Regions from separate parts of the Homo sapiens genome. Here region 2 is linked to region 1. The links come from fine-mapping of genetic effects on gene expression. Tissue or cell type: whole blood. Region 1 holds a variant in brackets; the other region holds the start of a gene. All regions are shown on one strand. Distances are between the middles of the regions.

The links. PIP is the estimated chance that this variant, and not a neighbour inherited with it, causes the effect.
Region 2: it holds the start of GRK3, and the variant in region 1 is fine-mapped to the expression of GRK3 in whole blood (TOPMed, PIP above 0.99).

What each region holds. Positions count from the first base shown.
Region 1 is chr22:25,637,289-25,645,396 of GRCh38, reverse strand. It overlaps GRK3 (G protein-coupled receptor kinase 3), which reads right to left. Exons shown (of 21, transcript NM_005160.4): 3 at 732-805. Among named protein-coding and RNA genes, the nearest start is that of GRK3-AS1, 76 kb to the right of the region's middle. The variant CT/T (reference allele first, on the strand shown) is at 3,646.
Region 2 is chr22:25,560,771-25,568,878 of GRCh38, reverse strand. It overlaps GRK3 (G protein-coupled receptor kinase 3), which reads right to left and starts at 4,204. Exons shown (of 21, transcript NM_005160.4): 1 at 3,726-4,204. The coding sequence starts at 3,838. It overlaps GRK3-AS1 (GRK3 antisense RNA 1), which reads left to right and starts at 3,463. Exons shown (of 4, transcript NR_183564.1): 1 at 3,463-3,799; 2 at 4,520-4,789; 3 at 5,398-5,576; 4 at 7,381-7,991. RefSeq lists enhancers at 1,530-1,709, 2,992-3,507 and silencers at 3,619-3,868, 4,179-4,278.

The sequences.
Region 1 (8,108 bases):
AAGCAGCCAAGCCTGGATGCCCATCTGCCTGCTACACCTGAAATCAACAGAAACCCTAGGTGAAAAGTAGCTGTAGATACCCAATGTCACCAGACCACATCTTCTAGAGTTTCCATCTCTCGCCCATTCTGTTTTCAGACTCCAGACTCCAGCAGGTCTGTGTTTCCTAGGCACTGTAAGGCTGTAGGAGATTTCAATGTGCCTTCTGGAAGTTTCTGGCCTCTCTCTTCAGCTCCCCTCCAACCTCAGATTTCACCAAATTTCTTATGGGGAAAATCAGTCATGCATTTGAGCACCCCACCACACCCCCCACCAAATCTCCAATTTGTCAGTCCATTATGACCAGAAAACCTTGGCTAGTATCTCTTTCAAAGCTAGTAGCAGTCCTCTGCCTCTGCTCACATCTCCAGAACTAGCACGCTTCCACAGAAAATAAAATAACTGGTCCTCCTTGGTGCAGCTCTGGATGAGCCTCCCATCTCTGGAACTTTAGTCCAACTGTCCCTCATTGCTTCCATAGCACTCTGAAGCCTTTAAGAATGCGACTTTTATGGCATACTCAGCTTTTCATACCTGTTAGCATCTCAAACTTGATACTATATTTTGCACTACTAATTACTTTCAATGAATTTCTAAATATTTGTAAGATATTAAGTAGTCTTAATATGTTCCAAAGTACAGTTTAAATATGCTTTTGAAAGAAAAGCATCAGTAAAACAGTTACTTCTTACCTCTTCATAAAACTTCACCTGAGGTACAGCTTCATTAATTTCATTCAAACAAAAATCTTTAAATAGCAAGAAACCTAAAGGAAAAAAATAAAAAATTTCAGGGTGGGCAATTAATTGAAATTTTATCCCACAAGGGTGTTTTCAAAGCAATGTGTTTATACCTCAACCTCTTCCTCCTCTACTTTTTTTTTTAAAAAAAAGATTTCAAGAAGCTAGTGAATTAATTAATTCCTAGAAGGAAATACTCCAGGCAGAAAAATACCACATACTTGGCTCCTTGCTTCAGGATTCCTTCTCTATTCATGTTCACCCCCGCCCCCCACTTTCCACAAAAGTATGATACGACAGGGCTGGCATTCACCACCACCACTTGGAGCCGCTGACCATTGTAGTGACCAAAATAACAACCAAAGGAATAAGAGATACAGACAGTATGTGTTGGTGAGAATCACCAAGACACTAATAAACACTATGCCCACTAAAATAGGACCAAACTCCCTAAAAAAAAAACAAACAAACAAAAAAAAAAACACCAGAACCCTTCTAGTCCTTTCTTCCCAAACCTTTCTAGTCCTTTCTCTTGCCACTCACTCACTATTTCCAAGTCCCTACCGAATACCTAGTGCCAGAGCAGATTACCCATTCCCAGGTCATGCTTTACTCCTTCACAACTACAAGCCTCACCTTTAAACACCTTTGCCTAGAATACCACGCCCCTCTCTGTACCTTGAAAACTCCTGAAATAACCAGAATTGGACTCAAAAGCCAACTGTGCTCTGAAGTCTTCTCTGATGAGACAGACCCTATTGCACAATGCCTGGTACACAGTAGGTGGCCAATAAATGTTCACTGAATGAATGTTTACTTAGCCTTTCCAACATTCTGTCAAAATATTTACCACACACTAATTAATTACCTGATTTATAAGGCTCCCATTCCATTTGAAAACCTAGTGCCTAGCTTAATGCCTAATGGTGACGCCTAGATAAACAAAATTAAATAGAACAAGCTGATACCAGACTGAAGGTAGAGATACTTGAAGATTATAAAATTCCAAAAAGTCAAAACAATTAAACGGAGAGTTCGCAGAAACAGAAGCTGCAGAAAGGAACTGAAGAAAGACTCACAAAGTCTACCATGTAGAGATGAAGTGGACCAGAATTCCCCAGGTGGGACTGAAAAAGGAAGTGGCTGTGATGAGATTTTAATTAACATTAGCATAAGGATCTTGTAACTTGAACTGGTCTGTAACTGATCCATAAATTCCCCTCATAGTTCCCGGAACGTGGCCTTTGAAAATGGTAAGTGTTCGTTCACTCAAACTAGAGTAGAATGACTAAGAGTACTAGTTAAATAGGCATAGCCAGACTTTACCAGGGTCAGGCGCACACCTGCAGCAGGAGCACAGCCACGCTCCTCCCATGGAGAAACTGCAACGACCCCAACATAGGCAGGAAGTAGGAAATTCAAGAAGCAGGCAAATGGGAAGGATACACATCTCTATCTGTTCGTATGTTAGTATTCTGATTTTAAGAGTAATCGTTGTCTCTTCATTTTTATTCATTTCAAAGGACTTTCTAATTTCCCTTGTCATTTCTTCTTTGATCCGTGAGTCCTTCAGAAGGGTGTAGTTTAATTTCAAAATATTTGGGGATTTTTCAGACACTGATTTTCTGTTTAGCTCTGTTGTGGTCAGAGAACATGCTTGGTATGATTTCAATGCTTTTAAATGCATTGAAACTTTTGGTCTATCTAACGGAATGCTGTATGGCACTTGAAGAAAGGGTGCATTCTGTTCTTATAGGGTGGAGTGTTTCATTTAAAAGAATACAAAGGCAATTAAACCAAGTGGGCTTGATAGAGTTCTTCAAGATGGTCCTCTGCAGCAACACAGATGGAACTGAAGGCCATTATCCTAAGTGAAGTCAGTCAGAAACAGAGACTCAAATACTGCACATTCTCATTTACAAGTGGGAGCTAAACAATGGGTACACATGGACATAGGGAGTAAAATAATAGACACTGGAAACTCCAAAAGGCAGGAGGATGGGAGAGGAGTAAGCCATGAAAAATCACAGATTGAGTACAATGTACACTAAAAGCCCAGAGTTCACCACTATGCAATGTATCTAGGTAACAAAATTGCACTTGTACCCCCTAAATCCATAGAAATAAAAGATCATCCTCTGAATCTTTACAGAATGTCTGTCTGTTTATTTATTTATTTATTTTTGAGATGGAGTCTTGCTCTGTCGCCCAGGCTGGAGTGCAATGGCGCGATCTTGGCTCACTGCAACCTCTGCCTCCCAGGTTCAAGCAATTCTCCTGCCTCAGCCTCCCGAGTAGCTAGGATTACAGGCACCCGCGATCATGGCCGGCTAATTTTTGCATTTTTAGTAGATACGGGGTTTCACCATGTTGGCCAGACTGGTCTCGATCTCCTGACCTCAGGTGATCCACCCGCCTTGCCCTCCCAAAGTGCTGGGATTACAGGCGTGAGCCACCGCGCGGCCATCTGTCTATTTATTCTATCCATCATCAACAGTGAAGTGTTGAACTCTCCATTTGTAATTGTAGATTTGTTCATCTTTTTTCAATGTTGTCAGTTTTTGCCACATGTATTTCTTTTTCTATTTCTGGAAGACAAAACTAACATGAGAATTTGAACTTAAGTATTTTGATCAAATTAGAGATGTTTTCAAAATGTCTAAATGACAAAATGAAATAATACCACACATGGACCACTGTCTTTTGACTACACTTGGAATCAAACTGAAACTCTTCACCATAGCCTACCCACGTCCTCTGGAGTCACCATTTCCTTCTCTGGCCTCATCTCACAGTGCTCCCCCCAAGCTCACTTCACTTAGGCCAAGCTTCTGTACTGTAGTTTCTCTGACACCAAGCTCATTCC[CT/T]TCTCAGGGTTTCTTACCGGCTATTCCCACTGCCTCACACACTTTTCCTGGATCTTCTAAATGAACAGCTCACTAGCTCACTTCACATATCCCTTTCCTTGAGGAGGCCTTTCATGATTCTCATTCATTCTCACTGTCCTGCTGTCTCTATCTCGCATCCATTCACACACACACACCACAAAACACTTTGTAGCACTTACGATGAGCAAAAATTGTCGCATGTTTATATTTGCTTCTTTACTGTCTACCTCTCCCACTACAATGTAAGCTGCAATGCATAGGGTACAGGTGTTTTATTCTCTACTACATTTGCACAAGAGCATTGACTGTAACAAAGACAGAGCTCAGGAGAGAGAACAAAGGAAGAAAGGTAGAAGAAAGAGCAAAGGTACAAGGAGAGGGAGGGAAGTCGGGGGAAAGGAGGAAGGAAGAGGACAGAAAGAGGAGGGATGAGGGAAAGAGGGAGTTGAATGAATGAACACCCAACTTAGAATGTGTTTACCTATTTATTTAAGGAAATCTCCATTGTCGGTCAGTAGAATAAGCCAAGGACTTAGTTCAACACACAATAGAAAACACAAAATATTATTTTCCTCCTATGTGCACATAAACTGAAGCTTTACTTTCTACCAGCTGTTTAAATGGAGCTGCTAAAATTGAGCAGCAGGAAGAAAGATATTTGCCTTTTGGCTAAATCCTAGATCACTGTGTCCTAGGCTGAACGCAACTTACCTTCATCAGCCTTAAATTATATAAAAAGCAAATGAAGCATGGCCTAGATTAGGGCAAAATATGAGAGGCAAAAATAAGGAAATATTTTGCCTAACAAGTTCACTTCATCGCTGCAATTTCTCCAGATCTTAAAGAGTAAAAAATGGTGACCTAACACCTGCTTAGTAGATATTTGTGAAATGTGTTTACTTTGTTGCTATATTTGAACCACTGCAAAATGCTGAATATTGATTAACTTTTTAGTGTATGTAACACCCGCCATCACGATAATTTTTCAAAAATTAGTAGAAAGAATTGTATTGCTTTTTATAAAATGTAAGTTAAGAACTTTTGAAAGTATTAAATATAAGTGGTTTCTATGAGAAAATTTGAAATTAAATCTCCTAAAAATTAGAAAGGTGAAAAGAGAAATATGAAAATTTTCTTGCAAGAAAAAATACTTGTCCTCAGTTTTGCCAAGGAGATTAAGACAGTAAGGAGAATAGACTGCATAACTGCTAAAACTTCCTCCCAATATTGACTAATTCTACAAAACATTTACTGAGTATCTACTAAGAGCCACTGTGTTATTCACTGAGGATGTGATTGTGAAAACAGTGTTTTTCCAATAAAGCGCTTACGGATTAGTGTAAGAGACAGACAACAAAGAAATACATATAATTTATGACAAGGAATATAAAGTAATTAAGTATGATGCTGAGATAATGATAAAAAGAGGAAGATGTATTTCAGACAGAATGGTCAGTAAGGCCTTTCTGAGCTGTGAGACAAACAAAATACAATGCATGTCAGATAAGAAAATGCTGCAATATGTAATCTCACTCCTCTTCAACATTGTATTGGAGGTCCTAGCCAATGCAATAAAGTAAGAAAATGAAATAACAGTTATTCAAATTGAAAAGGAAGAACTAAAACTGATTCTATTCAATCTGGTTACCTACCTGGCAAATCCTATCTATAAGTAACTACTAGAATATGTAAGTAAATTTAGCAAGGCCACAGGACATAAGGTCATTAGATAAAAACCAATGAAATTTCTATAAACTCATAGCACACAATTTTAAAATGGAATTTTAAAAACAAGTCAATTTGTAATAACAAAGAACTATCAATACATAGGAATAAACAAATAAATGACATACAAGAACAGTATGCTAAAAACTATAAAATGTTACTGAGAGAAATTAAAGAAGATCTAAATAAATGGAAATACATACTCAGTTCATGGACTGGAAGATTTAGTATTGCTTAGATGTTAATTCTTCCCAGAATAATTTGTAGATTCAGTGCAATTACAATCATAACTCCAACAGGCCTTTTTAAAGAAACTGACAAGCTGATTCGAAAATATATATGGAAATGCAAAAAACCTAGAATACCCAAAACATCTTAAGAAAGAAGAACAAAGTTCAAAGCCTTAACGCTATCCAATTTCAAGACTCATTACATAGCCATACTAATCTTAATCAATACATTAGATTGATTAATATGGCTATATAATGTAGTGGCATTAGATTAAATCACTGGAACAGAAATATAAGGTCCCAGAATATGCCCACATTTATATAGTCAATTTAAGTCTTTTCAACAAATGATGCTGGGAAAGCTGATATCCATATGGGGAAAAAGATGAAAGGAATTGTTACCTCACACCTTATAAAGAATTAAATTAAGGATTATCATAGAACTAAATGTGAAGGCTAAAATTATAATGCTTCTAGAATATATATAGAATATCTTCACAGAAAATCTTTATGCAAAAGATTTCTTAGGCAGGGTAAAGAAAGAAATGATAAATTATACTTTATCAAAATGTAGAACTTCTGTTCTTCAAAAGACAGTGTTAAAAAATAGACCAGCCATGGACTGGGGTAAAATATTATAAAACCTAAGTTAGAAAAAATGCCTTGTAAATTTGGATTCAAAGAAACAAACAAAGACAATTCTTACAAATCCATGTTAAAAGAAGAACAACTCAATAAAAGAACTCAAGGAAGATTTGAACACATCACAACACAGGAACACCTCACAAGAAAGGGATAGAAACAGCCAGTAAGCCCATGAAAGGGACTCAGCATCATTGGTCATCATGTAAATGTAAATTAAGCCACTCTAAGATATCCCTTCTCAACTACTAGAATGGCTAAGTTAAATATTGACAACCCCAACTGCCAGCAGGGATACAAGGCAGCCAGAACTCCAATGAGTTGCTGAGGAGGACGGACAATACCTTGGGTCCCCCATGCCTCTGAATCAGCAGGCAGAGAAGGGAGATCTTGTGTTGACTGGAGTAACTGATCCTGACTGCCAAGGGGATCCACACTAGAGAGATAAGGAAAAGCATGTCTGGAATACAGGAGATTTCCTAGGGTATCCCCCCACTATTACTATGGCCTGTGATTAAAGTCAAGGGAAAACTATAACCCAATTCAGGCAGGGCTATGAATGGCCCAGACCTTTTAGGAGTAATGATTCAAGTCATCCCACCAGGTACAGAACTATGACCGACTGAGGTGCTTGCTGATGGTAAAGGGAACACGTAATCCATGGGAGTAAGGAATACCAGCTACAACCATGTGACCAGTTACAGGAATGAGGACTGCAACTGTCATGAGTGTTTCCCCCTTATTGTGTGTGTGTATGTTAAGCAAATATCTTTGCTTTCTTCTCCACTTCTTGTCCCTTTATCATGTAACAGAAGACATACTGACTTCCTAGTGTAGCATTTAAATATTGTTAACTTTACATGATGGTATTTAAGTTGCAAGACATCGAAGAAAAGAGCAAACATCATCCAAGGACTTTGCATCCTTTTCTGGGAAAAGAGTCAATGCATCTTCCATTGTACGCAGACTAGTTGTATCATGTTAGGTGGAAGTATGACCTTGTTATCGCCTTTAGTGGAGATTAATCGTGGTGTAAGGAGATGTGTATGAGCACCAGGATGACAAGGGGTGGATGTGTGATGGTTAATTTCATCTTGGAGAGTGTCCTGGAATGAGATTAAAATTTAGATCAGTAAACTGCGAGTAAGCAGATTGCTCCCCATAACGTAGGTGGGCTGCATCCAATCAGCTGAAAGCCTGAACAGAACAAAAAGATCAGATGCCCCAGGGAAGGGAGAATTTCCCAGCAGACTGCCTCCAGACTTCATCTGCACCATCAGCTATCCTGGATCTCGAGCCTGCCAGCTCACACTGCAGATTTGGACTTGCCCGTCTCCATAATCACATAAGCCAGTTCCTTACAATAAGTCTCTTTCTGTCTATATACACATATCCTATTACTTTTCTATCACTGGAGAATGCTGCATTATATAGATTTGGAGCATGGTAAAGAATATACAGTCCCTTAGGAAAATAGCTTGAAAGTTTTTATAAAGTTACACCCACACTTACACAATGCAGTGATTCCTCTATTAGATACTTATCCAATGAAAACTTATATCTCCAAAAAGACTTGTATAGGGAATCTTCATGGCAGCTTTATTCATAACTTATCTGAAATGATTCAAAGACTATCAACAGGAAGATAAGTAGATTGTGATATTTTCACACAGTGGAATACTATTCAGCAATAAAACAAAACAAACTACTGATACATCCAGCATTGTACCTGTATTAGTCAGGGTTCTCCAGAGAAACATATAAGCAAGTAAGAGGAGACTTACAGGAATTGGCTCACATGATTATGGAGGCCGAGAAGTCCCATGCTATGCTGTCTGCAAGCT
Region 2 (8,108 bases), 77 kb after region 1:
TTATTGTAAAACACCAAACATCATGTGTTCTATGCATTATGCTATATTCTATATTCATTCTTTATTATTCTATATTCTATGCATATAGAGTAATAAAAGTCATCCAAACGCTATTTGTTTGTGGTTAAATAAAATCTTCAAGCAAATACACTTCAAAGCAAACATCCTTCTTGGCTCAAATCTTTGTATTTCACACTAGTCTATAAGCTCCATGAAGGAAGGGGCTGTGGCTGGGTTTGTCATAGTACCCCGTGCCTGGCTCATAGAAATGGCTCTACAACTATGTACTGAATTAATGTCATAAACGGTATCATAAATGTCCTTTAAGGACTGTCAGTGCTCCTAGAAAATTATAAAGAATCTTTAAAATGTTGTTTCAGACCTTCCTATCATATTGTATGAATACTTTGAAAGGACAAGCTTTGCAATAGGTGATCCAACATTTGAAATGTCCAGTAAATAGAAATAAGACTCCAGGGGAAAGATGAAGTTCACATTACTCAACCGCCTTCAACTATATGTGATTTCAAGTCATCTGAATTTCATTCTGTTTTTTTTAAAAAAAAAAGAGTAACAGAGTAATACAGCCTACAGTAAAAGTCGTCTGAATCACTCCAGGGCTTAAGATGATGACCCTTTGTGGGCCTTTGCTTGTGAATTAGACCTTACTTAAATAAAAGTATTTCTTTTCCAACATGATGTAAAACAACTGGCCTGCACATCTAAATGCTCCTGTTTTAACTGGGCCTGCAAGGGAGGCTGTGGGTCACAGTTTACTACTCCCAGTAGGCCCCATTATCAGCTACATTAGCTCAACAACATTTCAGTAAACTAAAGCAGCTATACCATTTGGACAAACAGTCAGCTTTTCCAGGATTTGCACTCATTGGTTGGTTAACTGAATAAAGTGTCAACATAACAAAATATTTGCCTCTTGCCATCTCAGGGAAGCAAAATCTCCCCTGGGCAGAATGTTCCATTTTCTGAGACTCTCCTGTAATAGGCAGGAAGCTGCAAACCCAGTGTTTCATTTAAATTAGCTAGATATTTCGTTCTGATGCTCTTCTGTTTAAAACTGTGGGAAAGGCAAAGTAACTAAAATAAGGAAGCACAAAGAATAGTGACTGCAAATAATTTGCTGGAAATAAAAAAATCACTAGTGATAGACCAAAGGCAAATTAAAATGTATGCTTCTCATTCAGATACCAAAAATACAAATCTGAACATCTCTTTCAAGAATACCAAAAACTGGTGATCACATGGCTTCCTCTATAATGAAGCTGAAATAGAAACTTATCAGAAAACATTTGACCCGTATCCCTTTTACCAATAGTGTGAAGTCATACCAGCTATTTAAGTCATTAGGCTGGGGCATTTTAACATGCAATTAACTTTTTTACAGGATCTAGAAATTCCCCAACCCCCAACCTCCAAATCAAATAGGTAGGCCACTAACTGCCATCCAGTGGTAGAGAGAATTTTGCAAGATGTTATACCTGATAATCTCAATGTAACAGAATCCTAACACAGCACAAGGAGTGACTGTTACTATGTAAATAGCTACATTACAAAACTAAAGCCAAAGCCACTAAGATAAGTAGAAAACAAATTAGAATCTCAGGAGGAGGTTCCAATGGCCCAATTCGAGAGTCTATTTTAAAAAGAGCAACAGAGTAACAATTACTGAAGGGCTGTTTCCTAAAATTACTCTCTGGTTGGTATTTCTCAATTTTCAAATGTCATGAGAAATAATGCTGGCTGTCACTTACTCTGCCTTAAAAGAAAGCATTACCAAAGAATACCACTGAAAAACAAAGGCATTCATACAAGGAAGTGAACACCCTAAGTGCATAAGTACGTTCTTAAGAGGGACACTAAAAAAGCAGAAGTCACATTAAGTTCCAAACACCAAGAAAAAAAAAACTGAACAGAAGTTCCTAACTTTATTAATATTATATACTAGCCCCCCCCAAAAAAAAAACTGCCCATGAGTTGAGATTTATCAATTTTGTATATAGAAATACTACATATTTAGGACTCCCTGCCTTTGGGTGGTGGAGGGACACTAGGAAAGGCAAGACAAAAGAGGAATTAAGCCTTTTTCTACCACATTAGAAATGTACAGTTTTTTTGGTGAAATTTAGGTTTGATGTAGGCGTTCTTGTTCTCTAAGTAAGTTTCCCATTTGCCGGAAATTTTAAGCAGCATTGATTTTTTTCAATTAGCTTCAGATATGCTACACTCTGGAATAGGGGTGTTAAACTCACGACATTGCAGAAAGGTTTGCACTTTTCCCTCATTTTCACTACTTGGCATTGTCTATCAAAGAGTAGCACATCCTGCAAAACCAACAAGAGGCATGGGCTAAGGAGGAAAAGCAAGCTCAAAATACCTAGCAAGCATGTCTTCATTTGCACAATTTAGCTTTTCACAACAAATAACAAGGGGACTGGTATTTTCTGTATCATAGGGCTCATGGATGACTTGTAAAAAAAATCAGATGATGATCACTTAGCATTAGGTAACATTTAAGCAATCTTGGGCGCCTAACGCTTGAAGGACTGATGATTTCAAATGGACAATAACTTTGGTTTAGATTCCAATATTTTACAGAATTGCATGGTTTCAAATTCACCATAAACAAGATGCCTCTTTTGAGCATCAATTCCAAGAGCTATTTAGCATCAAGGAATCACATTAGCTGTACAACTCATGATGGTGTTAATTAGGAAAGGAGCTAGAGAAAAAAAAATCCATCACTGAAGCCTTGATACGTTATTTAAAACTCACTATTAACCAGACAAACTATTTTTTCTGGGGAAGTGCTAATGATATGAACTAGAAAAAATTTTACTAGTACCTTAATAATAAATCATTTGAGAGAAAATTGCAACTTGGTATGCACCTCACCGAGCCCCTCGCCAATTCAATCGGGCCCTCCTTTGATAATTTAACAACAAATTCCTGTCTGGAATCACCCATTCAAGTGTCTTTTTAAGTGACTCCTGTTTCAATTTTTTAATAAAGTGCCACCAGTAGATCTACAAGTTGAGGAAAGCAGCTCAGGTGACACACTTGGCACCAAAAAGAATACTGAGTGGGTCAAAATCCTGCCCGGGGACAAAATAGAAGAGAAGCCGAAGAAGGTGACTAGACTTAATAGACTTCAAGAAGAGCAAGTACTGAAAACAGCAGTTTAACTACCTCGGACAATAAGCAACAAGCCTGCAGTCCCCAGGTAAGCGGCCCAGAGGGAGGTGAGAGGATGGAGTTGGAAAGGGGGACCAATGAGCCCGGGAAGAAGGAGCGACCAGGATGGAGCGCAAAGCAGTGACAGGCAAGGAGCCAACGGGGACTACACCAATGCAACAGGAAGAACCACGGGGATGGGACAGGGCAGGACAGGACAGGGCTGGGGGGAGGGGGCGACAGGGATGGAGCTGGTCCAGCCAAGTCATAACCAGACCCTGGCTGGGGCGCTCGCTGCGCGCAGGGCGCCGCGCCGGGCACTTTGGAGCGCTCTCTCCCGGGGTGCCCCCCACCGGCCCTCCGATGCCCCATTTCAGAGACTGGAACGACGAGGCCGGCCCCGCATCGCCCGCTCCGCTGTGTCACCCGCCCCGGGGCAGCGGAGGCTCAGCGCCCGACCCTCCAGGAAGCAGGGGGTAGCTGGCGGCCGCAGGGGGCGGCGGCTTGGGGCCGGCGCCGGCCGGGGCAGCTGGTACCTGGGCTCCGGCAGGACGATCCTCTTGCTGGCGCGGGCGGCCGGGGTCGCCTTGCTCTTCTCCATGGCCATCAGGTAACTGACATCGGCCAGCACAGCCTCCAGGTCCGCCATGTTGGCGAGCTTTGGCGGCGGCGGCGGCGGTTACTCCGGACCTGGACGGGACGCGCGCCCGCCGCCGCCGCCCGCCGCGCCCCGACCTGGGGGGGCCGCCCCGGGGCAGCCCCCCCCTCCGCGCGCCCCCGCCCCGCGCGCGCGCCGCGCGCCCCACTAGCGCTCTGCGCGCGCCGCAGGCTGTAGCCGGCCGGGGTCGCAGCACGCCTCCCCGCTCCGCCCCCTCGCGCGCCGCCCGGCGCCCCGCGCACGCGCGCCGCCCCCTGCTCCTTCAGCGAGGGTCTGCGGGGAGCGCGCGTCCAACGGTCAGCGCCCCTCAGTGCACAGTCCCAGCGGCCTCGCTGGGCCGGCGCCTCCCGACCAAGTCTCTACGGTCGCCCTCCCCTCGGGGTGGCCACGAGGGACTCCTCCTCCTCTTCCTCCTCCCCTCCCTCCCCCTCGGTCTCCGCCTCCTCCTTCTCCTCCTCCTTCACTGCCCCGACCTCCCGCCCCAGGTTCCACGCGCTCTGATGCCCGCCCCGCTCACCCAGAGAAGCCCTGGGCCAGACGTCCACAACCCAAGGGGTTATGGGGAGGCCTCTGCTCCCTGGACACAGTAGTTCTCAAACTGGACAGTGTCAATCAGCATCCTCCGGGAGGTCTGGGGTGGCCCCGGAAATACATGTGTCCCACCTATCCCAGCAGGTAATGATGAAACTCCTGCTCTGGTCCGGGCTACCGGTGAACAGCGCCCAGCGGGCCGGGCCCCCAACCTCGCTCCTGAGCCTGAACATCCCCCCAACCCCACCGTGAGAATTCAGCGAAGAGTAAAAGCTGGAAAAAGTTGCGTGTCTTAGGCTAAGCAGAACAAAGTGGGGTGACGGCTCCCCGGCTAGGAACAGAGATGCCCTTAGGGAGCCCTCTGATGGAAGAGCTCTCCGCTTAAGAAGGTCACCACTCCCTTACACTCAGGTGAGAGGTTTTAGTTTGGGTGTTGAAATGGTGTTGAGAAATAGAAGGAGAGAGAGTATTCCTGTCGTTAGGGTTTTACGGTCAATACAAGAGACAATTAGGGAGCATCTGCTGCGAGCACACTCGCACCACGAGGGTGATTTAGGGAAGTGGAAAAGCGAGATACAGCCCAAACACCGAAGCTGGGGGGAATTTCCAGCTTCCTGATCTTCGGTCTCGGTGTCTTTCATCATCACTCCACCCCGATGCCTGGGGTTTTCAGTTGCTTATTTTTCTACAGTGTGCACACAAGTCCGCATTCAGGATCCATGTGACACTCAGGCTGGAGTGGTGGTAAGGGACACGCAGGCAGTCTTAGGAAGACCTAAGCTGGAAATTAATGTTTTAAAATCCCTTTCATTCACCTGAATTGGTCACGTATTTCCATGAGCCTAGACGTTGCTAGAATTTGAGTGAACGTTCTGTCCATAACTTACAGGGTTAACGGGACCCACCAGATACAGTTAAGGTCAAATTTCAGATATTTCATGTAATGTCATTGCAGAAGCAGCCTGATTCTGTCATCAAATAGCCTGTTTCCCTCTTTTGTTTTCTCTCCCACGCCACAGCCCCCCTCAATCTGATTCCCTGCTATGCCTGCCATCACCACTGGCCAGTTTTACCACATGCTTCTCAAGACCCAAGGCACAATAGGCATAAAGTTGTCCTGAAAAGGACAAGAGGAGTGTCAGAAGTAGGAATGGCAGTTGAAGGAGCTTCGTCTGCCAGCAGAAAGCTGAAATGACAGGCAAGCACAAAATATATTAAGGAGACAAAGCTATGCATGAGCGAAATATCAAACTTTCATCTTCTACCCACTTTTTTTTTTTTTTTTTGCTTAAAAACAGGAAGACAGAATGTCTTGTCAAGGGTCACCCCAGGAGGAGGAGTAAATTCCCCAAAAAGCGGAACATATTTTTATGATTTAATTAATACAATTTCTCTCAATGTGTCTGTTTATCATTTGAGCATCCACATGATCAGACCTGACATCTGCCTACATTTTCTTGGTCGTCTTTGACTTCAGTTAAGAACCTTTTGCTCTTTGTTTTCCCCCAGCAGCACAGTATATTAAGTTTGGAACAAGACACACCTGAAATCAAATCCCTGCTCTGTGCTGGGTGATCTTAGAGGCAGTCTTTTACCTCTTTCTACTTTATTGTTCTCATAGGAAAAGTGGAAATGAGGCCTTTTACCCCAGGGTTGTTGAGAAGACAGAGGAGAAAAAGCACATAAAAATGCACCTTGTCGGGCGTGGGGCTCACACCTGTAATCCCAGCACTTTGGGAGGCTGAGGCAGGTGTATCGCTTGAGGCCAGGAGTTCAAGACCAGCCTGGCCAACAGGAAAAATACATTAAAAATAATGTCTCTATTAAAAATACAAAAATTAGCCAGGTATGGTGGTGCACGCCTGTAATCCCAGCTACTCAGGAGGCTGAGGCAGAAGAATCGCTTGAACCCAGGAAGCGAAAGCTGCAGTGAGTCGAGATCGCAGCACTGGGCAGGCACAGTGGCTCACACCTGTAATCCCAGTACTTTGGGAGGCTGAGGTGGGTGGATCACAAGGTCAGGAGATGGAGACCATCCTGGCTAACACGATGAAACTGTATCTCTACTAAAAATACAAAAACAAAATAAGCTGGGCGTGGTGGCGGGCGCCTGTAGTCCCAGCTACCTGGGAGGCTGAGGCAGGAGAATGGCAGGAACCCGGGAGGCAGAGCTTGCCGTCAGCCAAGATTGCACTGCTGCACTCCAGCCTGGGCAAGAGAGCAAGACCCTGTCTCAAAAAAAAAAAAAAAAAAAAAAAAAGCATTTTGCCTGGCACCCAGTAGATCCTCAATAAAGGTCATGGCACTTCCTCTATTTATTTTGCTTCATTTTACCCTGGCATGCTAGAGAAGATACTGAAACTAGTTGTTCACAGTCATTACACTTGAAGCAGGAAGACCCCTTACCAAAAATAACATCTCCCTAGGGCATTTCTAGGAACCAAAATGGCAAAAACATTTGCATCTATAAACATGAGCAATTACTCTTTTGGCAGAAAGACCAAGGAGTCCAAAATTTGGTCCTCTAACTGAGGCCCCTACACCATTTGAGTCAGCTGACTCAATTACCCAGGGGTATTTTTTTCTGGTGTTCATAGTGTATGAATTTCTGTTCCCTGGCTGTCTCTTTGGTTGTCTCACTTTCTCCACCCCCTCTTCTTTCCCTTTTTCTTGACTCTCTTGATACTGAACAGCTTTTTGTGTTCACTGCAAACAAAAGGGGTTAATGACAGTGATGATGAAGTTGTCATAACTGACCTGCTGGATCCTGTTACTAAACACCATCCCCAGCCTGTAATCATCACAAAGAACAGAAAAAACAAATAGCAACCCATTTGTACTTAGCTAATAATGCTCCCTTGCAAATAATTATGTCTCCCACCCCCAGAGGATTTAAATGACTTGGGGCTCACGCTGCTTGTGATAATAGACAAAACTCCAGCGTTCCCACAAGATTAATAATGTTCCCTTTTCTTCTTTTCTATGCCTTTCCATCGTTACAGGAGATGTTGCTGAGATGGGTGCATTAAAGTTTAGGCTTTCCAGAGTTTATATTGCTAACAACTTGAAAGGAAAAAAGCTAACTAGAGAACTGACTGGTCTTATTTGTTTTAGATTCTGGGCTTTACTAAGACTTCCTACTCTCAGAATCTCTGGACTATAAACGCTGGGTGGGGTGGGAGCTGGGAATGTTATTCTGGAAAATTAATCACAAATGAAAAGAAAATCAACTCTAAGACTCCAGTTAGAAGATTTTTGAAAATGGCAGAACATGACTGGCCTTCATTCAAGTCAGAATATTTAAAGCAATCCTTGCTAAGAAGAACTTGATTTTGTATAAGCAGTCCCTTAAATACAGTTGCTTCTCAAGAAAACCACACACAATTGATGTTTGAATGGCTTTATTTACAAACATCTCACTCCGTAAGCCTCTGCAGGTATTTCTAGCCTCCCAGGGGCCACTGTCCCGTTTCACCTGTAATTTGGATCACAATTCTGTTTGTTGTCACACACATCATATGAACTGCTTTTCATGCTGCTTTTATCCACAAAGCTTTACAAGCTTTAATGGCAGCTCTATGTATGACAACTTTATAAAGATCTGCCAAAAGGTATGATGCCAAGCTTTGCTTTTATTAAACTATTAGCTATTAGCACTGAAACGATGTTCAGTAGAGAAGTACTCTCCTTTCAATATGTGAGTGGAAACACATTTCTCTATGGGGACTGC